Linked DNA regions of Homo sapiens. The protein of the gene in region 4 purifies or fractionates together with the protein of the main gene of each other region. This does not show direct contact. Each region holds a gene or a part of one and is shown on either strand. Other genes may lie near its edges. The genes, in order: NDUFS4, ATP2B2, ATP2B3 and GALNT6.

What was found.
Region 1: the proteins of GALNT6 (region 4) and NDUFS4 purify together in Homo sapiens (affinity purification with mass spectrometry; 2 studies listed by BioGRID and IntAct, with this or other methods). This does not show direct contact.
Region 2: the proteins of GALNT6 (region 4) and ATP2B2 purify together in Homo sapiens (affinity purification with mass spectrometry; 2 studies listed by BioGRID and IntAct, with this or other methods). This does not show direct contact.
Region 3: the proteins of GALNT6 (region 4) and ATP2B3 purify together in Homo sapiens (affinity purification with mass spectrometry; 2 studies listed by BioGRID and IntAct, with this or other methods). This does not show direct contact.

Annotation. Positions count from the first base shown.
Region 1 is NC_000005.10:53,598,626-53,605,650, reverse strand, and holds part of NDUFS4 (NADH dehydrogenase [ubiquinone] iron-sulfur protein 4, mitochondrial isoform 1 precursor), read right to left. Parts: intron 2,200-7,025; coding exon 2,121-2,199; intron 928-2,120; exon of another isoform or gene 756-927; intron 1-755. UniProt on the Homo sapiens protein: Accessory subunit of the mitochondrial membrane respiratory chain NADH dehydrogenase (Complex I), that is believed not to be involved in catalysis. Complex I functions in the transfer of electrons from NADH to the respiratory chain.
Region 2 is NC_000003.12:10,495,569-10,502,593, forward strand, and holds part of ATP2B2 (plasma membrane calcium-transporting ATPase 2), read right to left. Parts: intron 1-7,025. UniProt on the Homo sapiens protein: ATP-driven Ca(2+) ion pump involved in the maintenance of basal intracellular Ca(2+) levels in specialized cells of cerebellar circuit and vestibular and cochlear systems.
Region 3 is NC_000023.11:153,520,639-153,527,663, reverse strand, and holds part of ATP2B3 (plasma membrane calcium-transporting ATPase 3), read right to left. Parts: intron 1-7,025. UniProt on the Homo sapiens protein: ATP-driven Ca(2+) ion pump involved in the maintenance of basal intracellular Ca(2+) levels at the presynaptic terminals. Uses ATP as an energy source to transport cytosolic Ca(2+) ions across the plasma membrane to the extracellular compartment.
Region 4 is NC_000012.12:51,374,387-51,381,411, reverse strand, and holds part of GALNT6 (polypeptide N-acetylgalactosaminyltransferase 6), read left to right. Parts: intron 1-1,527; 5' UTR 1,528-1,630; coding exon 1,631-2,121; intron 2,122-4,044; coding exon 4,045-4,217; intron 4,218-7,025. UniProt on the Homo sapiens protein: Catalyzes the initial reaction in O-linked oligosaccharide biosynthesis, the transfer of an N-acetyl-D-galactosamine residue to a serine or threonine residue on the protein receptor. May participate in synthesis of oncofetal fibronectin.

The DNA.
Region 1 (7,025 bases), on a different chromosome or scaffold from region 4:
TAGAACCAATCCCCTTACAGGTACTGAGGGACAACTATTACTTCAAGAAAGGTATAACAAAGCTGGGGAAAATCTAGGTAGGGCAAGAAAATTCAACAGTATGCAACCGATTTTATGACATATAATTAAAAATACCAAACCAATCCAGTCTGTCTACCTCTCTTGTATGCTTCATAGCACTCTGTTTAGGGCAATGTATTACTGGCTGACTCACTCATTCTTCAAACTAGAAAGAAGAGAACTTAGAAGAGTTATTAGTGAACTCTAAAATTTGAAAACTTTATAGAAAAGGCAACCTCCTGAGAGTTAAAAAAAGATGCTCATAGGAAAAATTAAAATAATAGTGCTCTCATTAATGAACACACAGGATGTGAAAATCATCCTCACTTCATACACACATAACTGCCTCATTTCTTTTGTTTTGTTTTTCAGACTGAGTTTCACTCTTGTTGCCCAGGCTGGAGAGTAATGGTGCGATCTCGGCTCCCTGCAACCTCCACCTCCCAGGTTCAAGCGATTCTCCTGCCTCAGCCTCCTGAGTAGCTGAGATTACAGGCACCCGCCACCACGCCCAGCTAATTTTTTGTATTTTTAGTAGAGACGGGGTATCACCATGTTGGTCAAGCTGGTCACGAACTCCTGACCTCGTGATCCACCCGCCTCAGCCTCCCAAAGTGCTGGGATTACAGGCATGAGCCACCATGCCCTGCCCCTCATTTCTTTTATACTTGACTAAGCAAGTGGTGTTTGATTACCATTTGAAGAATAGGTAGATGGTGACCGGATGAAGTCCTCAGGATTAGTTAAAATGCATCCAGGTAGAGTGAACAGGAACTCCAAATGCCTTGAAGCAGGAAAAAGAGTAGCAAGTTCCAGGCTTGGTGTGGCTAGACCACAGAATGTAAAACACAGTGGTACAAGATAAACCTAGAGAGGAAGGCAGGAGCTAAATCAGGCAAGACGTCAAAGACCATGTTAGGATTTTAGTGTTTACTCTAAGGGCAACAGGAAGCACCAAAGGACGAAAAGAGGGTGACAATACCAGCATTTCAAAGACTATTTTGGCATCCTAAGGAAAATTAATCAGATTAGGATTAAAGAGTCTAGGGAGATCAGGTCAAAGACTACTGTAGAAATCTAGGTGAAAGATGATGTAACCTAGATCAGGATGATGACAATGTCAGTAGGTAAACTGAAGAGATAATTTTAAAATAAAACCAGTCAGCACAAGATGTGAATTTTCCAAACTGTCTCTATTTACTTATACATTTATTTGTCTGTATCTTTAATGGTGCAAATAGAAATTTAAGTGTGACCTATTACTTAGATTGGGCTTACAGGCTCAAAGTTGAGTGATAAAATACTGTACAATAATAAAGGGGGTAGTTAAGAAACACTGATAATGGTAAACCAGATATAAAATGAAAAGCACACATATACAATTACTCATTTCTATCAGAAGTTTTGGAAACATTACAAAATGTATGCTATTGAAGCATAAATATAAAGTTGCATGTAAAGTAACAGACCACACTCTAAAATATTTTATAAGTGATGGCTGCCAAAATTCTGTTTGTTACTGATTCACAAAACATTATTACTCATTTGTTGCTGGTCTTGCTAGTTGTTTGCTAGTTGCTTGCTAGTTATTTCTTCATACATATGAAGAAATAAAATGTGTGTGTATGTGTTTGTATGCATATACATATATACATATAGTGATAATAAATGTTGCATGCTTCCAAGAAAACCTAATATATTTAGTTTTAGATAGTACTAGCAAGTATCTCACAACTTAAATAGGAGTGTAACTGAGAAAATAAAAAGCAAAACATTCATTACAAAAAGTAATGAATGTTCTGCTAGTTATAAACACCACAAAAATGAAAACCTTTCATAATTTTAATTTATTAATATTTGCATATGGTTTTGTATTTGTTTATAATGCTTAATATAAATTATCTTTTGATGACAAATATTTCTTCTTAAAATTTAGGTATAATCTAGAAATTCAAATTCAAATCACTTTCCTGAAAACCTGGAACACCATACTGAATATCTATAGTACAAAAATAACCCTGAAGGCAGAACCATAGCAGTGTGTAGTAGAAAATCCTTACCAATTTTTCATCAACTGTTATGAGTTGTGTGTCTTGAGTCTGGTCCTGTGCCAATCTCCATGTGGAAGTCCTCAACGACCTGCAGTGCAAGACTTTAAGTTAAAAAAGGATCCAGGCAATGAGAGGAGAGACAGACAAATCTTACATAAACAAGCTACTTTAACAATATCTGTCTTATTAAAAAAAAAAAAAAAGGAAAGGAAAGAAAGAGAAGAGGGCACAAAAGTCCTTTTTCTCTGCAATTAGTTCTGTCTGCTGAGTTTTTGGCAGACTCACTTGACAGTTCACAACAGGCTGCGCTTTACGTCAGTCTTCAGGCTCTCTGTCACAGAAAGGCCACCAGTGACAAGTACTGTACTGCTGTCTATGAGTGTACAGTGGCTGATTTGTCACGACCAGCCAGAAACATGCAAAGCTATACCAATTGTTCTGGAACACTGATTCTTAAACGGATGGCATCAGAAACGAAAAGAAAAAAATCCCAATCATAATAAAAAGTTTATTCACTCTAATTTCACACCAAAAGTATTTTACATAGGAATGATTTGTATAACTAATGTTATTAGTTTAGTCCTGTAGCCCATTCACAAAATGGGAGAAATAAAATTAGTTAAAATGAAAATATTAAGTTAGACGTAAAATGGGCAGAGAATCTAGCCCCTTTATATTAGCATTTTCCTACTCTCACTCCAATTACTTAACGTTAACGGACGTTTCATGTACACTTTGTTGTTTATACTACTGAATGTCATACATATCCCTGACTGTGCTGTGACATTTTAGCATCTTAAGAGTTTTCCAAACTATTAGGCTATCTGACATAGATTTCTATTGCAAAAGTAAGTATACACAACTGTGGCTCAAATTTCCACCCCAAATATATGGCATTTGGTCCTTTCTTTTTTTTAATACAATATATTCACTACCATAGTTTTAATGCAACATAATAACCAATAATTGACAAAAATAACTGATACAAATAGTTGAACTTTTTGTGCTAAAAGTTCAATTTTGATAATGTGTACACAGCCATATAGAAAACCTTCTTAATTATAATTTAAAGATAACATAATACAAGAGGTTTTACTGCTTTATGAATATACTTTAAAATATCTGTCAATTATTTACCAAATTTAAGGTATTATGTAATTCTTTATCACTGTAAATGCCCCACTCAGAAATATACCTACACAAAATGTACTAACATGGAAATAACTCTAGATGATTTACACAAAGTTAAAATACATGTCCTGGTTGTTATATTAAAGAAGTATAATTAAGCAACTCTTAATACCTATTTTATTTTGGAAATCATTAAGGTCAGTAACATGGCAATTAAAAAATTTAAATACTTTTAAACAAATCCACATATTACAAGAAAAACATTGGGTAATGATAAGTGAACTCATGAGAATCTGAAATATCAGAAAATGTTATCACATTTTCTAAATGCAGTAAGTAGCTCCCCCTCATCCTTGTACGATACATTTTAAGACGCCCAGTGGATGCCTAAAATTGTTAATAGAACTGAACCCTACATACACTGTTTTTTCTAATACATACACACCTATGATAAAGTTTACTTTACAAATTAGGCAGTAATAAATTAACAATAACTAATAATAAAACAGATCAATTAAGTAAAATAAAGGTTACTTGAACACAAGCACTGCAATACTGAGACGGTCAATCTTATCACCAAGATGGCTACTAAGTTCTGACTAACGCAGGTATCCTATACAACCTGGATACACTAGACAAAGGGATGATTCACATCCTGGGTGAGACAGAGCTGGACGGCATGAGATTTCATCACACTACTCAGAATGGAGCAAATATTAAATTCATAAATTGTTTGTTTTGGGAATTTTCCACTGCATATTTTTGGACCACAGCTGACCGTGGGTAACTAAAACCGTGAAAAGCTACACTATATTTTCTCAAATGAAGAGACCTGTTAGATGAAAACAGTGCAAATTATTAGGTAGATTAAAACTCTGTACCCATTTTGTGCAATTTTTTACTACAAAGGGGATTTAACTTAAAACGATTATGTCCTAATTGTTTAAGAAAATCTTAGTATATATTAGTTGTAATCCAAAGTAAAGTTCTTAATTTATAAAACCATATATAATTTACTTTAAGGATAGGTTTATTTTAATAATTTTAGGTTAACCTCCAACTAATTGTAATAATAAAGTTATATAACATCTTTTGTAAACATGTGTAGCCGGGCGCGGTGGCTCATGCCTATAATCCCAGCACTTTGGGAGGCTGAGGCGGGCGGATCACAAGGTCAGGAGATGGATACCATCCTGGCTAACACGGTGAAACCCCGTCTCTACTAAAAATACAAAAAATTAGCCGGGCGTAGCAGCGGGCCCCTGTAGTCGCAGCTACTCGGAGGCTGAGGCAGGAGAATGGCGTGAACCTGGGAGGCGGAGCTTGCAGTGAGCTGAGATCGCGCCACTGCACTCCAGCCTGGGCGACAGAGCAAGACTCCGTCTCAAAAAAAAAAAAAAAAAAATTTATTATAAACAAACGCACTGATAAAAATTTATATCAAGCTGTATGTAAAAGATAATACAATAAAAAGGACAAAAATGTTAAGTAAAACAATCCTACCATAAAGTTACAGTAAAAATTTTTTGTAAAAAAATTTAAGATAGGTTAGATTGCAAAGAGTGATTTTAATTTTTATGTAAAACAATAATTATTTCAGAAAAATTTGCCTAAATTAAAACGTGTGCTTGTGTAAGTTATATCATGTGATAAGAAACTACCCTCTAAGCAGAAAACAATTATTAAAGGACTCAAATATCAGATGTGGAGAAAAGTTTTTCTCCAATTCTGGACAGTTAAGGTAGCAACGAAGGTCCACAGTCAATTATGAACACAGCATTTAATAAATTATACCTACCGGGCTGGGCGCAGTGGCTCACGCCTGTAATCCCAGCACTTCAGGAAGCTGAGGTGGGTGGATCACCTGAGGTCAGGAGTTCGAGACCAGTCTGGCCAACATGACAAAACCCCACCTCTACTAAAAATACAAAAATTAGCTGGGCTTGGTGGGGCATGCCTGTAGTCCCAGCTACTCAGGAGGTTGAGGCAGGAGAATCTCTTGAACCTGGAGGCAGAGGTTGCAATGAGCCGAGATCGCACCACTGCACTCCAGCCTGGGCAACAAAGTGAGACACTGTCTCAAAAAATGAATAAACAAAAAATAAAAATAGGCCGGGCGGGCCGGCTCACACCTGTAATCCCAGCACTTTGGGAGGCCGAGGATGGCGGATCACCTAAGTTCAGGAGTTCCAGACCAACCTGACCAACGTGGAGAAACCCAGTCTCCACTAAAAATACAAAATTAGCTGGGCGTGGTGGTGCATGCCTGTAACCCCAGCTACTCGGGAGGCTGAGATAGGAGAATCACTTGAACCCGGGAGGTGGAGGCTGCAGTGAGCTGAGATCGTGCCATTGCACTCCAGCCTGGGCAACAAAGAATGAAACTCCGTCTCAAAAAATAATAATAAAATAAATAAATAAATAAAAATTATACCTACAAAGTATAATCTATAGTAAATTTTAGACTACACATGAATTATACAGTAAATATCTGTTTGTTGATTAGCCTGTAAGGAATGTCACATCAGTGAAATGGTAGATGGAAGGAAAATATTAAGAGTACAAAAACCTTGTTAAGAAAAAAAGATATAAAGCCTAGAAAGCATAAAGGAAAAAATGACAGAAGCTATTACATAAAACCAAAAACATCAAAACTAAATATACTGTAAGTGAAGTGTAAGACAGACAAGAAGAAAATAATACAAAATAGAACAGTAAGGAATCAACATCTAAAAGAGGTAAAAGAACTTGTACAAGTAAGTAGGGGGTCATTTCTAAATTTTAAAAGAAGAACTCAAACAGCAACAAAACAACCCAATTAGAAATGGGGAAAACACCTAAATAAACATTTATCCAAAAAAGATATACAAATGGCTAATGAGCACATGAAATGATGCTCAACAGAACTAATTAGAGCAATGCAAATCAAAACACAATGAGGTAGCATTTTACACCCTTTTACAACATTTTAGTATATAAAAACAGAAAATAAGTATTAACAGAAACGTATAGAAATTGGTACCCTTATGGGAATGTAAAATGGTACTACCACTATGGAAAATGGTATGGCAGTTTCTCAAAAAGTAAACAGAATTATCCTATGATCCAACAATTCCATTACTGAGTATATACCTAAAAGAACTAAAAGTGAAGACTCAAATAAATATTTGTACACCAATGTTTATAGCAGCATTTTTCAAATAGCCAAAAGCAAAAACAGCCAAAATATTAATAATCATATTTTACTGGGCAATGTACCCAGTAAAACAGTGTTCTCAGTAGTAAGTGTTCATGTAGAAACAATGACTAATGTGTAATCATTAGAAAATAAATGGTAATTTTACTCACTCTGCTGTTTAATATTCATTTTTGACAAACTTAAAAACATTCTTTGCCTCATGGGTTTGCCTTTATTTTTGTCCATCTATTTGTTTTGTTAATTGGCCTGCTCACATTTCCAGGTTTGTAAAGTATCATTCTTAATTCTCAGCCCAAAGGATAAACTCTGAGGGTTGTGATTGTGATTATTAATTACCATTACTGGTCAAGGTAATTATAAGCGTACAAGCCATTTATTCTGTTTTTCTGTATAAGTTTCCTGAAAGAAAAAGAGATATCCTGAAAATGAAAATCAATAAACTTTATTTCTAATCCTGGTTTTTATCAATAAACCTTATTTCTAACTCTGGTTAAGTAAAACAGTTTGGTGAGATTTTTGTCTTTTTTATTGTGTTGTCTTTTACATACAGCTTGATAACAATATGAGATAAATTTTTATCAGTA
Region 2 (7,025 bases), on a different chromosome or scaffold from region 4:
TAGACGTTCCCAGGGCCAGGGAAGCTGATGTCTCCACTCAGCTCAGAATTTCCTTCCCCTGAGGTCATGGGGCAGACTCAGGCCTCTGAGAGGGCAGAGAAGTGCCTAGAAACAGCCCTGGGTCCCAGTGCCAGGTCTCGCTTAATTTTATTGCTACTCCCTGAGTGCAGGAGTGGCCCAGGCCACATACTCTTCACCACACTGACCCCATTTTGTAGATAAGGAAACTGAGGCTCTGGAAGCTCTAAATACTGTGGTGGTGAGGCTGAGTCTTGGTCCTGGAAGTTATTCATGGCCTAGCCCCCAGGCAGGGCACCCGCAGTCGTATACCACCTTCTACCTGGGGCTGCCTCCGCCTCCCAGCAGGAGTTGTTTCTGGAGCTGATTCATCTCTGAGCTCAGCAAGGAGCCCGACAAACAGCCTGGTCCACACCAAATACTTAGCTAATACTGGTTTTATTGATTTGCATTCTATGCCCTCTTCAGGATGCTCTGAGCTCAGAAATCTGAAATTGGCTGGGGGTGGGATGGGGAGAAGGGCTTCATTTTAATCTGAAGTGAGTCATGTAAGTTGATAAATTTAGAAGTGGCCTAAAGAGCTCTTAATCTGCTGCCTTCAGATAGTTGCTAGGAAGAGACTGGCACCCAGCAACCTTTGCATCCCAAATCCACATAACAGAGTGGACACTGTTGGTGCCCACCCTAGTCCTCCTTACCGGTCTGCAGCTTCCACACCCCAGCTGCTGGGAGCTAGAGCTCCCGGCTGCCCCTTCTTTGCAGGCTTGCCCTGGGAAGAACAGGAGCTCCTGCCCGGGCAATTGCACACAGCATCCCACTCAGAAGGCAGCCGTGGCCAATAACTATCTGATATGGGGTATGAAAGGCCAGCTTTTTTGCTTCAAGGCAGAGCCAAACCTGGGGCGCAGTTCATGCCCCACATCCCCCAAGGGATCAGCTGAGGCCACACGCTTGTTTATCTCTTTCTCTCCCTACCTTGTTTCCTTTCAGCCCCTTTCTCCTGAGCGCTGTCTCATGCTTGCTCCTAGTGAGTCCAACCCAAGATCCACACACATTGCACTCCACACGCAGACACTAGCTCCACCCCTCCAACCCCGCCCCTTCCCCCGTGACCTGGACATCAGCAATGTCCAGGCAGCTTCGAATTTTAGACATTTAAAGTCTCAGGGGGCCCATCTGGCTCCAAAAGGCTTGTTTCAAAGATGGGAAACTGATGCTCAGAAAGAGACTGTGACTTGTCCAAGGTCACTTGAAGTGCTTGTCATGGCTGGCTGCACCCAGGTCTTTGTCCTCCCCCCAACTCCAATCCACTTTGTGGCCCTAGCCTGTCTGGTGGCTGGACCAACGGGCCAGCCACGGCTTTTGCTGTCTCCAGGAGGGAATTTTGCTGTGTCAACTCTGCAGAAGCCACTTGGAGGCCAGGAGAGTGCTGGCTGGTGGGCTTGCAGGATGGTTGGCAGGCTCTGCTGACCTTGGGCAGCTGTGGGCAGGGTGGGCATCCCAGTTAGGCCCCTTCCACTGTTTGTGGTGGTCAGGCAGAAAATTGAGGGAAGACAGAAACGACTTCTAATGAGGGCCCTAATTACCCTGTGGATCCCTGAAGCACTGGTGATGTATCTGCTGGTGGCTTCTTCTAGAAACCCTCCTCTCCATGGCAAGAACTGCTTTCTCCATAAGAGAAAGAGTCCTGAACCAACATGGGCAAAGAGGCAGCATTGGGCTGGTGCCTGGACATTGGGCTGTGGTTCCAGTCTGCTGGGAGCTGGCTGTGTGATCCTGGGCAAACCAGCATGCCTCTTGGCCCTTGGTTTTCTCAGCTATAAAGCAAGTGCAGCCTCAACTGCTATTATTTTATTGAGCCTAGTGTTTATTTTAGTATCATTTATTGAACTAGAAGAGACTCATTAAAGTTCATCAAATAATAATTGCTTACACTTCTGCCAAGGGCTGTCCTAAGCACTTTAATTTTACTTAATCCTCACAACAATCCTATGAATTGGACACTTTTGTTATCCCCATTTTACAGATGGTGGGACTAAGGCACAGAGAAATTAAGAAACTTGTGCTGGGTCACACAGCATGGAAATGGTGGAGCAGGAATTAGAATCCCAGAGTCTATGCTTTAAATTCCTCCTTGTACTACGGTCTTTGCTGTTTGTTTTGCACGGCCATTTATTAAGCACCTACTGCATATGGGGACTCTGCTGGTCACGTAATACACACAAAAGTTTGCCGACTTCTCACAGCTGCTCCGGCAAGCAGGTGTTCTTTTGCTGATTGTTTCAGAGTGGACACAAAGGACCCAGTGAGGGACTCACCGCAACTGAGCTGGGGAGGCAGGTGGCAATCCTGGCTTCTTCCCACCAGCCTGGTGGCTCTGTTCTGAGCCCCTTATAAAACTGATCTTATTTATCATATTTTCTTGACTCTAACCTGTATCACTACTTTACGTATATTTAAGAAATAAAAGGCATGGCTGGTTCCACTGTGGTGTAACACCAGTTGTCAGGCACAACCTGGCTTCAGAAATGTCAAAATGTATATCTTGGAATCCGCACAGTTCAGTCTCCGACACAACGGCCTGATGAGGCAGGCAGTGTTGTCATCTCCATTTGACAGTGGAGGGAACGGAGGCTTGGAGATTAAGGACATGCAGCTGGTCAGCGGCCAGGCATTGGATGTGACCCCAAGCAGCCTGGGCCCAGATGTTGTCCTCAACTACTGCGCTACATCAACGCTAAGTCAGGCCCACGTAGGATGGCGTGCCCTGCCCATGGGCACAGATCAAAAAACTTCAGAAGGATCAGTGAGCTGGAGGCCAGCACCCTCTGCTCCGGATGAGCCTGGGGGCCTCACTCAGCGTGGATGCCTCAGGCATGCAGGAGGCACCCCAAATGGCTGCCACAGCATTCCCCGCCCACTGCCTCCACAGCTCCCTTGGGCCTGCAAGGCAGGTGTTTGACAGAGCTGGGCTAGAATGAGTTCATCCAGATGACGCCCCCATGGCTCCCACAAAATGGTCCCGGGGCAGCCAGACATGGCCCGGTAGAGTAGCCCAGCCGGCACAGGAAAGGCACCACTTTATAGGAAACTGCCTTCAGAGGCAGCACAGAAGCTTGCAGAGACCTGCTTTCTTCCTTCAAAGCTACATGGTGCTTGGACCCCAAACGGTGTCATCCATTCACTGCTTCTCCCATAGGCTCCACCAATCCCATATGCTCCACTATGGCACGACTGCTCCCAATTTTCCCAAATCAAATCCACCCTCCTTGGACTAGGATGTGCCCCTTCTGGGGACATCTTTAAGATGCCCACAAGCAGGGCAGAAGCTCAACATATTTCGAATGCCTGGCATGATGAGGGTTCCATTTGAGACATTACCTACCCATCATCTCGTGGCACAATCTTGTGAGGCAGGTTTTTCCCACTCCACTTTGCATATCAGGATGTCAAGCTCAGAGAAGCAAAGCTACCTGCCCAAGGTCACACAGTAGTAAACACTGGCATTAGGATTTATACTCAAATCTTTCTGATGCCACAAAGGAGGCCACTTTCCATCAATTTCTGGCGAGGCCCTGAGCCAAGTGCTTCCTTTGCATTACTTCACCAAATCCTCATACAACAAATAATAGCATCATCATAATACTACCACTATCCCATCTTACAGGCAAGAAAACATCCGCTGAGCCTCTACCTGGACCACACCCGGGCCAAGCCCTGTACTTGGATCCTGTTTGCCTCACGTGACAACCGGGAAGATGGGTGCTCAGCTAACCCTTGGTTTACGGAGGAGCAAACTGAGGCGAAGTCACTGGTTCAACCACACACAACCGAACGCACATGACTGAATAAGCAATTCCCCTCCCACGCATTACATGGGAAAACAAAAAGCATTTGTAAAGTGCTTGCGGACACATTTTAGCGATTAGTACTATTATGATGAACATTTCGGTACTTGGCAATTACCCCATAAAGTCAGTGCTGCTGCCCCTATTCTCCGGAAGAGCACAATGACGTTCACAGAGTCAGTGGCAGAGACAAGGAACTGTGGCTCTCAATCCTCTGCCACATGTTGGTCTCCTGGGACCACGGCTGGGCCCCTTCACACCTTGAAGCTCCCCTGCCTGTCTCCAGCCTCTCTCTGGTGCCCAGGAGCCCCTGCAGACCTGGGGTCTTCATAGGGCTGGCTGGAATTCCTGCCCCATGGATTCCTAGCTGTGGGCCCTAAGGGGTCTCTGGGCATCCCCCAGCCAGCTACAAAAAGGTGGAAAGGTGAAGGAGCACCAGGGACCTGGGTTCAAATCCCAGCTCTGCCCCTCACTTGCTGTGTGACTTGGGCACATTCTTTTTTTTTTTTTTTTTTTTTTGAGATAGAGTCTCACTCTGTCACCCAGGCTAGAGTGCAATGGTTCCATCTTGGCTCACTGCAACCTCCACCTCCCAGGATCAAATGATTCTCCTGTCTCAGCCTCCTGAGTAGCTGGATTACAGGCATGCACCACCAGGCCCGGCTAACTTTTTTTGTATTTTTAGTAGAAACGGGGTTTTGCCATGTTGGCCAGGCTGGTCTCGAACTCCTGACCTCAGGTGATCCACCTGTCTTGGCGTCCCAAAGTGCTTGGATTACAGGTATGAGCCACTGCGCCTGGCCTGACTTGGGCACATTCTTAATGTCTCTGGGCCCTGGTTTCTGTAATCCGGAAAATGGGTGATGGTGAAGAAGAGATAAGACTGTGTGCAGGTCTTATGAGCAATAAACACCTCATAAATCTTAGTGACTGCAGTGGGTTGAACGGTGTCCTATCCAAAGTTCATGCCCACCTGGAACCTCAGAATGTGACCTTGTTTGGAAATAGGATCTTTGCAGATGGAATTAGCTAAGGATTTTGAGATGAAATCATCTTGGGTCTAGGTTGGGCCCTAAATCCAATGACCAATGTCTTTAGAAGCAGAGGAGAGGACACCGAGAGACACACAGGAAGGAGTGAGGTGAAGATGAAAGCAGAGATGGGTGTGACGCAGCCACAAGGTGAGGAAGAGCAAGGGTTGCTGGCCACTGCCCGTAGCTAGGGAGACAAGGGACAGGCTCTTCCTCAGCCTCTCCAGGAAAAGCCAACCCTGCTGGCTCCTGACTCTAGACTTCTGGCTTCCAGAAGTGGGAGACAATACACGTCTGTTGTTTGAAGCCACCTAGCCTGTGGTCATTTGTTATGGCAGCCACAGAAAACAAACACAACGGGCTGTCCCTGCAGTTGCTCTCCTTGCTACTTCCTGAGACTTGCAGTGTTTCTGACCCTTCACCCCAAGGGGCAGTGGGCAGGAGAAGCTGCCCTCACCAAGGACACTGGGGGGCAGGATCACTGACCCCTCTCACAAGGGGAGAGCTTGGGACCAGAGGGCTTACACAGCTTTTCCAAGGTCACTCGCCAGTGATGAGCCGGCCTGGGACCCAGCTCTCCTGACCCTCAGACCAACACACTCTCCCCCATACCCAGGGACCTCTGTTTCTTTAGGAACCTGAGCTGTGGCCCCTGCTCGGGCCTGGTCACTTGCCCTCCTGGTCCTGCCAGCCGTGGTCTCTGGCCACATATCTGGAACTCTCTGACCCTGCAGAGATTTCCTAGACTGTGAATGACACTTCTAAGGCTTTTACCGTCACTCCCGCTTCCCCCTGCCTCCCGCCGCCTCCATCCAGACTGTCAAGTGAAGACCGGGGTGAAGCCGAAGCCACACTGCCCAGCAGGAGGTCCCAGGAGTTTTCCATAGCATAACCCATTTTTTAAACGGTTTTTTTTTTTTTTTGAGACAGGGTCTCGCTCTGTCATCCAGGCTGGAGTGCAGTGGCACAATCACGGCTCACTGCAGCCTTGACCTCCCGGACTCAAGCGATCCTCCCACCTCAGCCTCCTGCATAGCTGGGACGACAGGAGTATGCCACCACACCCTGCTAATTTTTAAATTTTTTGTAGAGATGGGGTCTTGGAGAGTGCCCTTGGAGCATGGCTCCCAGCTGTCTGCTGAGAAGATGGCCTTGTTTTGGATTTGAGGGTTCATCGGTCCTCAGGAGGGCCTGATTTAGCTGTGCAGGGTGAAGCCAGGGGCTAGGGGTTGGTAGGGGACTGGTGGGGAGAGGAAATGAGTTTCAGTCTCATTCAGTCACCCACTAGGCTGGAGACCTCAGTTTCCCCACGTGTGACAGGTACAGGCAGAACAGCATGGTGTCTAGGCCACCCCCAGCTCTGAGCGCCTATGTGCTCCACCAAGCCCACTCTTAAGCACCTCAGCTCCCCAGGGTGCGGAGTGAAATGGGTGAAAACCCAGGGGTACCTGTGGAAATGTAGCCCCTGGGACCTCCTGATTCATCAAGGTAGGGCCCAGAAATCTGCCCCCATCAGGTGATCTTTAGGTTAATTAATGCATTAATGGGTTTCCTGACCCATACCTGTGGCTGGGCAGGGGGAAGGCAGAGGAGGGCAGTGGGACAGCAGGCGGATGGGCCAGTGTTTCAGGCTCTGCACATAGCATAAGCCACAGGCAGCTTTTCTGACCTCCGATCTGCAAACTAGAGATTTCTTTCCTTTTTTCCCTTTCTGATCTCAGAGTTGGCCAGTTGCAGCAGCAAGGTGCTCACCTGCTCCGGCTCCTGATCCTGATGCCAATCACACCTTCGTGCACAGCCCTCTACAGTGTCCAGGGCTCTCTGGCAGCTGTGGCATAAAACAGGGCAGAGATAGGCCTGCCTGGCCACAGATGAGAAGATTGAGGGCAGAGAGAGGAAGTGACTTGGCCAAGATCACACAGCTGGTCAGGAGCAGGGCTGGGCCCAGGGCTCTCATACTTTCCACCCACAGTCAAACACCTGGGGAAAACCAGGGGCCAACACAGGCCTCTGCTGCTTCTTGTCTGGGGCCTGAGAGCACTTGCAAGAAGCCCAGGTCTCTACAGAACACGGTGTGACCTTGGACAAGTCCCTGTGCCTGGCTGGGCCACAGTTTCCTTTTTATAAA
Region 3 (7,025 bases), on a different chromosome or scaffold from region 4:
CACAGGCGGCCCTCACAATGCTGGGTGTCCCTGGATCCCACGGGGAGGTTGGAAGCCCCTTTGTGATTGGGGCCAGAAGTCTACACTGAGGGTTGGGGGACAGTCATTTGTTTCCTGCCAGAGAAGGCAAGAGCTGCAGAAGGAGAGAGCGAGGGAGCAGGAAGCATAATGACACTAATTATCCAATTACAGCGGGTGTGCGAGCTGCATAGCAGCGTGAGCCTGGCCAGCCACTACCCTGCCCCTACGTGCTCCCCACGCCCCTCCTGCCAGCCCGGGCCTGCCCAGCAGCCCCGAAGGCAGGGACGGCATGGGGACCTAGAAACGCTGTGGCTGTGGCCAGCGTGAAAGACTCTAGCCTACAAAGGGACGGAGACCTCGTGTTTGGGGTCCAATGGGAAGCCGGGTCCCTGTCCTCCCAGCCCTTCATAGCCAGAGAGCACGTGGATGGGAGGAGAGGTGCCCCAAGTCGGCCCGGCTCTGCTGTGGTACCTCGGTGCCCGTCCCAGCCCGCTTCCAATCTCAGAGCCAGCTCTGAGGACCGGAAGCCGTCGGGGCCTAAATAGGTAATTAAGGAAATTACAGGCAGCTGGAGGCCATGGGGCTGTGGGCCCTGGGCTAAGTCCTTCCAGCTTGGACAGGCAGTGACTAAATAAGGAGCTACCAGGACACATACACGTGTCCTCCTAGGGAACGAGTCCCATGGGGCCCCATTAGGAATCCTGGCAGGGGCAGTAGAGAGGGCATCCTGGTTTCTGGAAGCAGGCCAAAGTCCTTGGGAGTACAGGCTGGGGGGATGCATTGGTGTCAAGGTCAGAGGCCAATAAAAGGATCTGGGAGGCAGACCTCCAAATGGGGGCTCCAACTGAAGATGGGAGTCAAGCCTGCCCTTCTGTGATCTAGACCCAAGGAACGAGCACACCGAAGTATCCGTGCCACTCTCCCCAGCTGAGGGGGCAGGATGCCTGCTGCCAAATGTGGTGATGGAGGAAGAGCCAGTGGCGAGGATGCCCAGAGAGAGGGTACCTCAGAAGCTGCAGCCGAGGCTGCAGGACGCGAAGGTCATCAAGGGCTTGGCTGCTGTCTGAATCGCGTGAACTGAGCATTGCTGGTTCATTTTTGAATTTTGCCTAAGACACTATTTCTGAGCGAGGAACCCGGCATACGAGCCCAAAGCTTTTCCAGCAAAGCCCAGAGGAAGCACCACCAAGTTCCTGCCGTGCTCCAGGAGTGCCTGAAGGGAGTGCAGAGGCAGAGGCCCCCTCTCAGGCCGGGACCCAACACCAACACAGGGCTCCGAGTCTCTCCCTCAGTGCGCCCCACAGCCCATCAGCTCCCCCTACCCTCCCACCACCAGCTGCTCCTCCAGTTCCTGACCCTCTTATCATCATCTGTCATCAGCACCATTCCTCCCGCCCCCTCTGTGCTCATGGACAGATGCCTGCTCTCCCCACTGGGAAGGCACCGGGAGAGCACAGCTGGGCTGGGGACAGGACCTGAAGGGGTGGATTTCTGCTCTGTGTGCTCACCCCCTCCCCTCCTCCCTTAGGGGAGACCCCAACCCTGCCCGTCTCCATCTCAGATACCCCCTCCCACGATTGTGCTATAGCCCAGCTTCCTCCTTCGGGGAAGGGTGGATGGGGCGCAGAGGGCCAGGCGGTGGCCTGGGAGCCCTGACCCACCCCATCCCACCTACAGACACAGCCACGAGTGCCTCCCTAGGGGCTACCAGGGCAGGCGTCTGGGGCAGTGGCCCCCAGGTCAGCGCATTCTTACCCTCTGGCCCCATGGATGGGTTACAAGGGGGGACTCTTGCTCCACTCCCCAGGACAGAGGTTTCCAAGCCTAGCTGCTGGTCACAGTGTTGTGGGCAGATGAACCACAGGCCAGGAGGGAGAGATGAGACTAGGTGGGAGACGTGCCCTACCCGTCCACAGCCCTCCCTCTTCTCCTGCACCAGACGTGGGACCATCTGCTGGCAGCCGCCCTCTGACTACAGGAAGGTACCCAGAGACCCCAGGAGCCAGAGGAGCCAGGACCAGCTGCTCCTGAGCCCATCTCTCCTGGGCCTGTGGCTCCAAGCCAAGATGTGGCAGTGTCTGGTCCTGGATGCTTCCAGGAGAAATGGAGCTGAGGCCCATGGTGGGGGGCGGAATGGACCCTTGTGCCTGGTGAGCCCTTGCTCTGCCCGAGAATTGGGGCTGGACACACTCTCCTGCTCCTGCTGCTCTTTGAGGGAGCCAAGCGGTTACTGCCGGGCTGGTCCAACCTGGAGAAAGGGCCCCTTCCCATTTGGTCACGCCCTGTGCCACCATCACACCCCTGGCCCGCAATCTGTGGGAATGTAGGTTCAGTTTCGAACCGGCCACTCCATGCGCCTTAACCCGGTTCAGGGTTTGATTTGAAACGCCGGAGTGCAGGGAATTCTGAGTGTCAGGACAGTGATTTCCAAAAGAGCAGCAGAAAGGCCTAAGTCCTGTCATTTGAGGTCATCTTCTGCCGGCCCACAGTGGCTTCCCAATCTCCCGCGCTCTCTTGTACTGCCGGCTTTGTTTTCGTGTTTCTCAGTCAGGAGGCTGTGGCGTTCCCAGGGCCGTCTGGCTATCCTCAGCTGGGGGCCTTCACTCAGGATGGCGCTGTACTGCCCACACCCGCCTCCCATCTGCGGAGAGTCAAATCCACAGCATCTGCACAGAGCCAGCCGCCACCCCACCCCATGGGGACCGGACTCATCTGCGGCTTCGGAACTCTGAGGATGTCCAGAGAATGTATCACCCAGTGCTTTATCTTGGCGGGGAGGGAGGAAGGGGGTCTTGACAAAGTGGTTCTGAAGTCCACTGGACAGAGAAGCAAGCTTTAGGATTGCTGAGGTGGGGCCGGCAGGTCAGGTATTAAATGATACCAGGTACAAGAGGCAAAAGCACATCACCGGTACAGCAGCACACAGATGGGCCCGTGGGTCAGGACAGGCAGCCAGCACCAGGTCTGACTGCAGACCAGTGTCAGTGCGTGCAAATGAGCCAGGGAACAACCGATTTGCTACTAGAGATGGGGACAACTGGTTAGCAATCTGCAAAGGATGCACCTTAGATCCTCACCTCAAACTATCCCCTAAGACACATCTCATTTGGATTCAACAGGTTTGGCAAATTACAGCTTAAGTGCCAAATCTGGCAGCCCAGTGTTCTTGTGAATAAAGTTTTATTGGGACACAGCCTCACCCCCTCATTTCGCATTGTCTGTGGCTACTTGCAGGCTACCATGCAGAGTTGAGTAGTCGGGACAGAGACTATGTGGCCTGCAAACTGGAAATCTATTTACCATCTGGCCTTTTGCAGAAAAAGCTTGCTAATCCCTAAATTAAAGAGTTAAGTATCTTAAAAATGCAACTACACCACCCCAATACACACACACACACACACACAGACACACACACACGAAGACACATGGAAAACTCAGAAATGAACAGCTCTCAAATTTCCGAAAGGGATTTTCTAAGCCTAGAAACAATGGAAGAAATCACAAATAATTGTGAGCAACAAAGTGTTTACCTTTTGCATGAAAAAAAAAAATGGCAAAGAACAAAGGTCTTAAAAATTATTTGCAACAAATCTGTTAAATTGTCACTGTTTTTTCATGCATACAGTTTATTCAAGCCCACAGAAGAAACACTAAGACTTCAATAAACGCCTTTCATTCCAGCACTTTGGGAGGCCGAGGTGGGTGGATCACCTGAGGTGAGGTGTTTGAGACCAGCCTGGCCAACATGGTAAAACCCCGGGTCTATTAAAAATACAAAAATTAGCCGGGTGTGGTGGCGGGCCCCTGTAATCCCAGCTACTCGGGAGGCTGAGGCAGGAGAATGGCTCGAACCCTGGAGGTGGAGGTTGCAGTGAGCTGAGATCGCGCCACTGCACTCCAGCCTGGGTGACAGAGCGAGACTGTCTCAGGGAAAAAAAAAAAAAAAAAAAAAAATGAAGGGAGGAACAGATAATTCACAAGGAAAAGACAACTTATAAACATGAGGAAAAACGTGCCCCCTCATCAGCAATTAAAGACATATAAAGTAAAGTACATATTTTTGACCTAGATACTTATGACAATTTGTTTGATTAAAATATCTAATGCTGGCAAGGTTGCAGTGAGCGACACCATGCAGTGCGATGAAAAAGCCCTTTTGGAGAACAATTTGGCAGAAGATACCTCTGCCTGGGCCCTCTCCTCAGGACAGAGGCTCCTCAGCAGAGCTCACGCATAAGAGCAAAATAAATCTGACTGCCTGGGTTTCCAAAAATAGCCAAATAATTAAGCGAATTACAATCTCTTGGGAGAATATTATTCAGCCATTAAAAATTGTAATTACTGAAGGCCGCCTGATACATCCCGGGTGCTTGGTAAATAACTGTTGAATGATCAAATTTCTTCTTTGCATGGTTCAAGATCATTCTTTCTTTTTGCAATAAGCACTTACTGCTTTTATAATCTTAAAAAATTAAACTATAACCATTTTGAAAAAAACCATTCATTTAGGAAGGGATTATATTAATAAAGAAAATGCTTATGTGAAGTAAAAAACAGATTACACAATTGAGCCCATGGTATAATGACAGCAATGTGAAATGAATCAAATGGAGATGTTGGATTTACATTTGCATGATAGGATGGCTTTACTACATTTTCGACTTCTCTGTGTTTTATACGTTTCCTATAGAGAGCATATTAAGAGTATTGTTTTTAAATAGGAAGAAATCAATTAAAAAAAAAAAAACCCACGTCTCCTCCCTGCTGTTTCCTGAGCACAGGCAGTGCGCTGGGCATATGGTGGGGCCTAATAAGGACCAGGCGGTGGCCGGATCTGGTTTTTGCCCCATGCTGGGTGTGCTAGGACCACTGGAGTCAGCACGAGGCGAGGTCTGGGCATCCCCCACAGCACGGTGAGCTGCTGGGACAGAGGCCCTTTCCCTCCTCCCTGGTCTGTGTTTGTCTAGGTATCTGCGCAGCCCCTGGAGAGTACATGCTTGGCCACTGCCTTCCAAGGAGGCATGGGGCAGTGGGCTTGGTGGGGGGTGTCTAGGTCCGTGTGAGGACTCGGGTCTCCATTTGCTCCAAAGCAGCTCTGTGTGACAGTACATCCCGGAGTCTCTGCACTGTCCCATATGGTAGCCACCAGCCATGTGTGGCTACCTGAGGAGGCGGGGTCAGGGCAGGATGGGCGGGGACTCAGGTTGTGGACCCGAGCCCTGGGAGATACCGGCTGGCCTCGTGGCCTCAGTCCATCCTCCCGGCCCCAGCCAGGTTTGCACTCTTACTTTGGTGAACACTGAGCAAAGCACAAAGGCTCCAGGAGGGCAGGAAGGGCATTGCGTTTGCTTTTTGCTTTCCGTCGTCTCCCCTGAAGCAAACACAGAGCCTGGCACACAGTGAACCAGGGCAGTGTCCCTCATGCCCATCACATCAATAAGATGTGGCCCCCTGGCATAGCTGGCGCCATTCTGACAATAGAATGCACTCATCCATTCTGAGGAACGACCCGTTCAAGCCCAGCCTGGCACTTTCTGTCCCTACCTGTTAAGCTCTCAGACTGGAGCCTGTCCCACCACAGAACACCTCTTCAAATTTCTGTGAGCAGTCAGCCCTCTTTGGGGCTTCTCTTCAGGATGGTTCTCTGGGGGAGCCCAAGCTGCTGCATTAGTGGCCTTGTGCCACCAGGGAGTGGGTGTGGGAGGTGGCTTCAGGGTCCGTGTGAGGACTTGGGTTTCCATTTCCTGTAGAGCAGCTCTGTGTGACAGAGCATTCGGGAGTGATGGAAATGTTCTCTCTCTGCACTGTCTGTGACGGTAGCCACCAGCCTTGGGTGGCTCCTGAGCCCTTGAAATGTGGCTGGTGCACCTGAGGAAGTGCATTCTAATAAAATCGCTGCTTGGACAGTGCAGCTGGAGAAAGTGCCTTGAGCCTGTGGCCTCAGGGGAGAACTTCTCACTGGAATAAAATGGTTGCTCGCTTACTGAGAGACCCACCTACAGAACAAGAGAGGCTGGCTCAGGACCCCTTTAAATAAGGTGCTCTTCAAGGACACGGACATACTCGCTTTGTACAACTTTGATTTGGAACCAAGACTCCGGAAACCTCCTCGTGCTCTAAAAGAGTCCTGCCAGTCCCAAGATTCCCCAACCATTGGCATTTCCACCCTTGCCTTGTTGCTCTGATTCAAGTCCTGCCACCTACTCAGCCATGTGACCTTGGACTTGTCTCCTTCCCAACCTTGGGCAGTCCAGGATGCCCGAATTCCCCTGCATTTGAGAGCCTGCTTCCCTCTGCCCCAGTGACGCGTGGCTCTGATCCTTCTCCGCAGGCTCCCAGGCCCACTGCCAGCACCGCCCACCCAACAGAAGGAGCCCAGGCAGGGGAGGGCTTTCCAGCCAGGCGCTGCTTGGCCTGGCTTCTGCCAGCTTAGCCAGGGTGGGGAAGGGAGGAGCCCTGTGCATGCTCCAGGTCTCTGCCTGGCATACCCAGCCCGGGGCGTTGCTGGGGAGCTTGCTGCAAAGTCACAGCAAGAGGCTTAGAGGGAAGTGTTTGCCTTCAGTACCATGGCACAGGTCCCCATCTATCAGCTGCCATTTACGTGCACTGCCAGTGCTTCCGGGTGCCCTGAAGGGGCCATGAATGCAGAGCTAAACCGGTCCCTGAGTTGCTGGAGACTGATATAAATCCACCTGTTGTCCATTTCTCTCAGTGGGTAGACGGGGCAGAGGTGCAGGTGGCTCAGCTTCTGAGCTGCAAGGTCTTCCCAAGAATCCCCGGCTTCAGCCCACAAGGCTGGGAGTACCCGAGACAGTGAGTTCACACGAACCACACTCTACTCTGCTGACTTCCGCACACACTTCTGGAGATACAGGAACTAATGGCTACAAGCACAGACCAGACTCCGGAGCCTGATGGACTACATTCCAGCCCTGGATTTGCTACCTACTGGCTGTGTGACCTTGGGCAAGTTACCTAGCCTCTCTGGGCCTCAGCCGCAATGC
Region 4 (7,025 bases):
TTCTGCAAGCATTCATCCTCTAGGGCATGGATCCACATGCCTGGGGGTGGAGCCTGGTGAACGCCCATGCCCAGCCCTGCCGGGAATGTCTTGTCATGAAATCTTAGGTTTCTGTTAAATTCTTTTTTATTAAATAGGAGTAGATTACAGATAACTTTTATTTATTTATTTTTAAAGACAGAATCTCTCTCTCGCCCATGCTGAAGAGCAATGGTGCGATTATAGCTCACTGCAGCCTTAACCTCCTGGGCTCCAGCAGTCCTCCTGCTTCAGCCTCCCAGGCAGCTAGGACTACAGGTGTGCACCACTACGCCTCGCTAATTTTTAAAATTTTTTATTGAGATGGGCTCTCAATACGTTGAGCAGACTGGTCTTGAACTCCTGGGCCCAAGCGATCCTCCCACCTCAGCCTCCCAAAGTGCTGGGATTACACCATGCTTGGCCAAGAAATATTTATAAAATACGTATAGGGTCTAAAGAATTACAGTCCACCAGCAGCCGCCATCCACTTTGAGAAAAAAACACTTTGAAGTCCCCCATTAACCATCTCTAATCCTGTACCGTTTTCTTCATCTTCAGAAACTGGTTATGTCATTTCTTTAGCTTTCTTTTTTTCGTGGGGAGACGGAGTCTTGCTCTGTTGCCCAGGCTGGAGTGCAGTGGCATGATCCTAGCCTACTGCAACCTCTGCCTCCCGGGTTCAAGTGACTCTCCTGCCTCAGCCTCCCAAGTAGCTGGGATTACAGGCATGCGCTACCACGCCCAGCTAATTTTTGTATTTTTAGTAGAGACAGGGTTTCACCATGTTGGCCAGGCTAGTCTTCTTTAGCTTTCTTTATAGCTTTATCACATATTTGTATTCAAGAACAAGATATTGTTTAATTTTAGCATGTTTTTACATTTTCTATAAGTGGAATCATACTGTATGTATCCTTTTGTCACTTGCTTTTTTCACCCAACAACACATCCACATTGTTGCATGGAGAAGTGGTTCATTCTTGGTCATCACTGTAGAGCACTGCACGGTATGGGTATTTTGCACTTTATTTATTCATTCTGCTAGTGGACTTAAAGGTTTTACCAGTTTGTTGCCATTTAAGTCAGTGTTGGCTTAAATGTTCTTGTACATACCTCTTGGTTTGCATCTACCAGAGTTTGTCTGGGATATAAAATGAGGAGTGGAATTGCTGGCTCAGGCTGTGTTCATTTCAAATTTTTCTTGATAATACCAAGTTGTTTCCCAAAGCCATAATGATTAAATCTCATGAGTTTAATGATTAAATCTCATGTAGTGTTTCAGTGTTCCAGTGACTCTAGATCCATGCATATTAGGATCTTAGGGCAGGAAAGAAACACTGCCTCCGGTCTCCTCATTTTATGGATGAAGGAAATGTAGATATGGGAAAGTTGTGGCCAATAAGGTGATGCCACCACTCAGCAACAGAGCCTGGCCTCGAACCCCAAGCACCCGACTCCCTCCTTACCCTGTGTTGGCTCACTTCTCTCTCTTGTCCCCTCCTTTCTCAGGCTGAGGCCCCAGCTTGTGGCCACCACAACGTATCAAGCTATCTCCAGGGTTGGGCTCAGGACTCAGAGCTGACGCAGCTGGGGTGCCCCTTGGTTCTGGAGGATGAGGCTCCTCCGCAGACGCCACATGCCCCTGCGCCTGGCCATGGTGGGCTGCGCCTTTGTGCTCTTCCTCTTCCTCCTGCATAGGGATGTGAGCAGCAGAGAGGAGGCCACAGAGAAGCCGTGGCTGAAGTCCCTGGTGAGCCGGAAGGATCACGTCCTGGACCTCATGCTGGAGGCCATGAACAACCTTAGAGATTCAATGCCCAAGCTCCAAATCAGGGCTCCAGAAGCCCAGCAGACTCTGTTCTCCATAAACCAGTCCTGCCTCCCTGGGTTCTATACCCCAGCTGAACTGAAGCCCTTCTGGGAACGGCCACCACAGGACCCCAATGCCCCTGGGGCAGATGGAAAAGCATTTCAGAAGAGCAAGTGGACCCCCCTGGAGACCCAGGAAAAGGAAGAAGGCTATAAGAAGCACTGTTTCAATGCCTTTGCCAGCGACCGGATCTCCCTGCAGAGGTCCCTGGGGCCAGACACCCGACCACCTGAGTAAGTAGCACCCAGAGTCCTTGTGGGGAGACCAGGGCTTTGCTAAAGGCATGGCTAGTATGGCCAGGGCCATAGATCAAGGGCCAGAGAAAGAGTTGAAGGGAATTTTATAATATGGGCAAGGATCTCCTCTATGCCTCACTTCTTTCCCAGAACAACTGTGCTGATCCCAGGGGTTGTGATTCAAGGGTATTATGGTCAGGCCAGAGGCCCAGGGAGACCTGTGAGAGTGAAATGCAATTATGAAAGTGAGATGATGTGGAAGAAGGAACTCAGCCTGGCACCAGGACCTGGCACGGGGTGACTGGGGAGACCTGATACCAAGCTGTGGTTTCAGTAGCTTTCTCCTCTACTGAGGCCTGCTCCAGAGACTGTGGGACTCTAATGCTGAGCTGTTTGGGGGGGGGGTGGGCATTTCTTAACAGCAACCCTGGTGGTTAGGAATATCCTCACACCTGGTTTCCTCCAGTGAAGGCCCACAAGGCCGGAATTGATTCCAACCTTTATCTGAAGTTGTTTATAGCCTCAATCTTGCACAATGAGATCTCACTTAGATCTTTGAGTGGCAGCCCCCTCCCTCTAACGCCCCCATGGCTGCATTCCCATGATCCTCAAGTTAAAGACAGTGTGTCTTCCCCACTTAGCCTTTGTCTTTTCCAGGTCAAGTGTTATACCCTATTTGGCCTTTTCTCAAATGGCAGCCCTCATCCCCAGATTTCGTGAGTCTTTAGGGCTGTGAACCTGAGGTTCTTGAGACTTGAGCCAAGTATGATAGCCCTAGAACAAGGGGCCACTTGAAGCTATCAGGAATTCCTCAGCAGAGAAGGGCACTGGGGCCAGGCACAGTGGCTCATGCCTATAATCCCAGCACTATGGAAGGCTGAGGTGGGTGGATCTCTTGAGGCCAGGAGTTCAAGACCAGCCTGGCCAACATGGTGAAAGCCTGTCTCTACTAAAAATACAAAAAAATTAGCCCGGCATGGTAGTGGGTGCCTGTAATCCCAGCTACTCAGAAGGCTGAAGGACAAGAATCGCTTGAACCTGGGAGGTGGAGGTTGCAGGGAGCTAAGATCATACCACTGCACTCCAGCCTGAGTGACAGAGCAAGACTCTGTCTCAAAAAAAACAGACAGAGAGAAGAGCACTGGGTGTGACAGCAGCCAGAGGAGGAAGACAGGGAATCTCTCTGGAGGGTCCCCAAGAAATCCTCTGACCAGCAGAGGAGGTCAAGGAAAGGGTGTGAGGTCACATGATTCCTTGAGATCCAGGATTCACACATTCCCACCCCAACCCTGAGATAGAGTGTCAAGAAGGTAGCAGCATGGCCAAGTGCCACAGAGTAGCTGGAGTGGATGAAGTTGGAAGAAAGGTTGCAGGAAATTGACTGTGATAGTGGTGTCAAATCACAGGGAGTTAATGAGAAAATGGATTAGAGAGGAACTGTACGCTGTAAAGGGAAGAGCCTTTTCTTCTCATTGAGTATGGAAATCATAGTCACTTTTCTCAGATGTCAAATTTGGCCTTTATTACCTACCCCTCTGGGACCTCTGGATTGGATTACATTTTATGCAGTTCACATATTACGGAGGAAGAGAGCCAGCCCTGGGAACTCCTAGCCTGAGAGCAGATAGCAGATGAAGGAAGGGGGTGGAGGAGCCTCAGCATCACAGCTGGGGCACTGAGCCAGCTCTGTGGGGATGGATTTTGGAGTGGTTTGGCTAGAACCTGTGCAAAGGCTCAGGGTGGGTGGCAGATACCGGGGAAGACAGGAACAGGGAACAGCTGTTCCCACCTGCTATAGAGAATGTAGGCTGTGGTTCAGAGGAGTGGAGGATGGTCTGGGGGAGTCTCTGGATGGGGCCCTCCCCACACCTGGTACTCCCAGGGACCAGGAGAACTTTGTCCGTACTTTCATACTTCCAGGTGTGTGGACCAGAAGTTCCGGCGCTGCCCCCCACTGGCCACCACCAGCGTGATCATTGTGTTCCACAACGAAGCCTGGTCCACACTGCTGCGAACAGTGTACAGCGTCCTACACACCACCCCTGCCATCTTGCTCAAGGAGATCATACTGGTGGATGATGCCAGCACAGAGGGTGAGGCTGGAGGGGCCCAGAGGAGGGGGCCGGGGTCTCCCCTGGGCACTCAAAGGAGGAGGGCAGTTCCTTTCAAGGGAGCAGGCACCACCTCATGAGCCTGTTGCCTGACATCACAGCTCATCTTAAAGGCCAGGAGCAGGAAGAAGTCAGGTAGGGGCAGGTAGACCATGCTTCCTTCACACCTCAGCCAAAGAGCTCCAAGAGCTTTTCAGCTCTGGCTTCAAGACTCCCTGAACGCTGCCAAGGCCAACCCTAACTCAGAAATGCTGGGAGAGACAGGGCAGAGGGTAGGGACAGGCCTTCACCTCTGTTTCCTACCCGCTGGGCCACTCTTCTGCTCTTGAAGACTCCCCAACCAGCCCTTTTTGCCATAGCTGTTGATAGGTAAGTGGGGTTGCTCACCAAACTTCCAGCCTTCAATTCCACAAACATCTACTGAGTACTGTGTGCCTGGCTCTGACCCAGGCAGAGGGGATGCCATGACAAAGGAGACAGACCCTGCCCTGAAAATACTAAAAACCCCCATAGGTCAGAAGCCTTTTTTTTTTTTTTTTTTTTGAGATGGAGTTTCGCTCTTGTTGCCCAGGCTGGAGTACAATGGTGTGATCTCAGCTCACCACAACCTCCGCCTCCCAGGTTCAAGCGATTCTCCTGCCTCAGCCTCCCTAGTAGCTGGGATTACAGGCATGTGCCACCACACCCAGCTAATTTTGTATTTTTAATAGAGATGGGGTTTCTCCATGTTGGTCAGGTTGGTCTCGAACTCCCGAACTCAGGTAATCTGCCTGCTCCAGCCTCCCAAAGTGCTGGGATTACAGGCATGAGCCACCGTGCCCGGCCAGAAGCCTCTTACAACACTAGCCACAGTGCTGTGGCAGTGATGCACCTGTAACAGGTGTGAAAGGGCATGGACTGCAGAGTCCAACACCTAGGAATTCAAATCCCAGCTCTGACCCTTCCTAGCTCTGTGACCTTGGACAAGCATTTGGCCTCCCTGAACCTGTTTCCTCTTCAAAAAATGGGGGCAGACCGGGCACAGTGGCTCAAGCCTGTAATTTCAGCACTTTGGGAGGCTGAAGCGGACAGATCACTTGAGGTCAGGAGTTTGAGACCAGCCTGGCCAACATGGTGAAACCCCATCTCTACCCAAAATACAAAAAATAATTAGCCAGGTGTGGTGGTGCGCGCTTGTAGTCCCAGCTGCTCGGGAGGCTGAGGCACAAGAATCACCTGAACCCGGGAGGCGTAGGCTGCAGTGAGCCAAGATGGCACCACTGCTTTTCTGCCTGAGAGACAGAGTGAGACTCCTTCTCAAAAAAACAAAACAAAAAAAAGGACTGGGCGTGGTGGCTCACGCCTGTAATCCTAGCACTCTGGGAGGCCGAGGCAGGCAGATTGCTTAAGGTCAGGAGTTCGAGACAGCCCGGCCAATATGGTGAAACCCCGTATCTACTAAAAATACAAAAATTAGCCAGGCGTGGCAGAGCATGCCTGTAGTCCCAACTACTCGGGAGGCTGAGGCAGGAGAATCGCTTGAACCCAGGAGGCGGAGGTTGCAGTGAGCCGAGATCATGTTACTGCACTCCAGCCTGGGCTACAGAGTGAGACTCCATCTCAAAAAAAAAAAAAAAGAGCAGTTGAGTCCCTTACATGGTGGGTGAGGGATATGAGATAGGTCATAAATGAGATTCATGTGCCACAGAGTGGCTGGCATCAAGTAAGAGTGTCACAAGCATGCATTCCATTTTATTCATGGTACGAGAACAATGCACCATGGAGTATGTAGCCAGGAGGTGCCATTTCTGCCTGGCGTGGCTAGGGCTGGTCTGCAGTGGAAGCCAGATTGGAGCTGGGCCTTAAAGGATGAGTGTCTAAGAGAGAAGAGTGGATGAAGGGCATTCCCACAAGAGAATGGCATAAGCACAGTCCTAAAGACATGAATGTGTTTGTTAAAGAGATCTGGTGTGGCTGAAGCTTAGGTTTGTTTAGGAAATGAGACTTAAAAGATGTTAAATTGGCCAGGGACAGTGGCTCACCCCTGTAATCCCAGCACTTAGGGAGGCCGAGGCGGGTGGATCACTTGAGCCCAGGAGTTCAAGACAGCCTGGGCAACATGTCAAGACCTTTTTTCTATAAAAATTACAAAAATTAGCCTGGCATGACGGCATGTGCCTGTAGTCCCAGCTACTCGGGAGGCTGAGCCAGAGCATGACCCTGTCTCAAAAAAAAAAATGTTGAATTGACATTCATGTCATGCTAAAAGCATTTATTTAGAAAGTAAGAAGGAGTCGTTGAAAGTGTTTCATCTGTACTGTGACTTCATTTCAGAAGGATGGCAGCTTTGGAGGAGGATAATCGGCAGGAAGAGAGGCAGAGGACTCACAGTCTGGAGAGGAAGTTCTTACACTCACTTGAGAGTAGGAGATGATGGGGCCTGAACTAGGAAAGGCTGTGGGACTGAGACACCTTTAGGCTGAGAGTCTCCACAAGCTTAGCCCTCCTCGTAGGAGGCATGTGGTGTCTGGGGCTCTCCCAGATTGACCTCCTGTGCTCAAACTCCCAATAGTGAGGGCAGGAACTGACTCCACACTTCCCAGTGTAAGCGCTGGGGCCACTCCAGTAGAGCTGCTTCCTGTCCTTGTCCTCCCCCAGCCTCCCTCCTTCCTCTAGGTTAGGGGTGATGCTGAAAAGAGGACTAGGGCTGTGGAAGGAAGGGCTGAGTGTGAGCCCTGTTGAGTTCATTTCTTCAGGAAGCTCACATCTTCCCAGGGAAGACAGATACTTGGCAGCACTTATAAAGCAAGG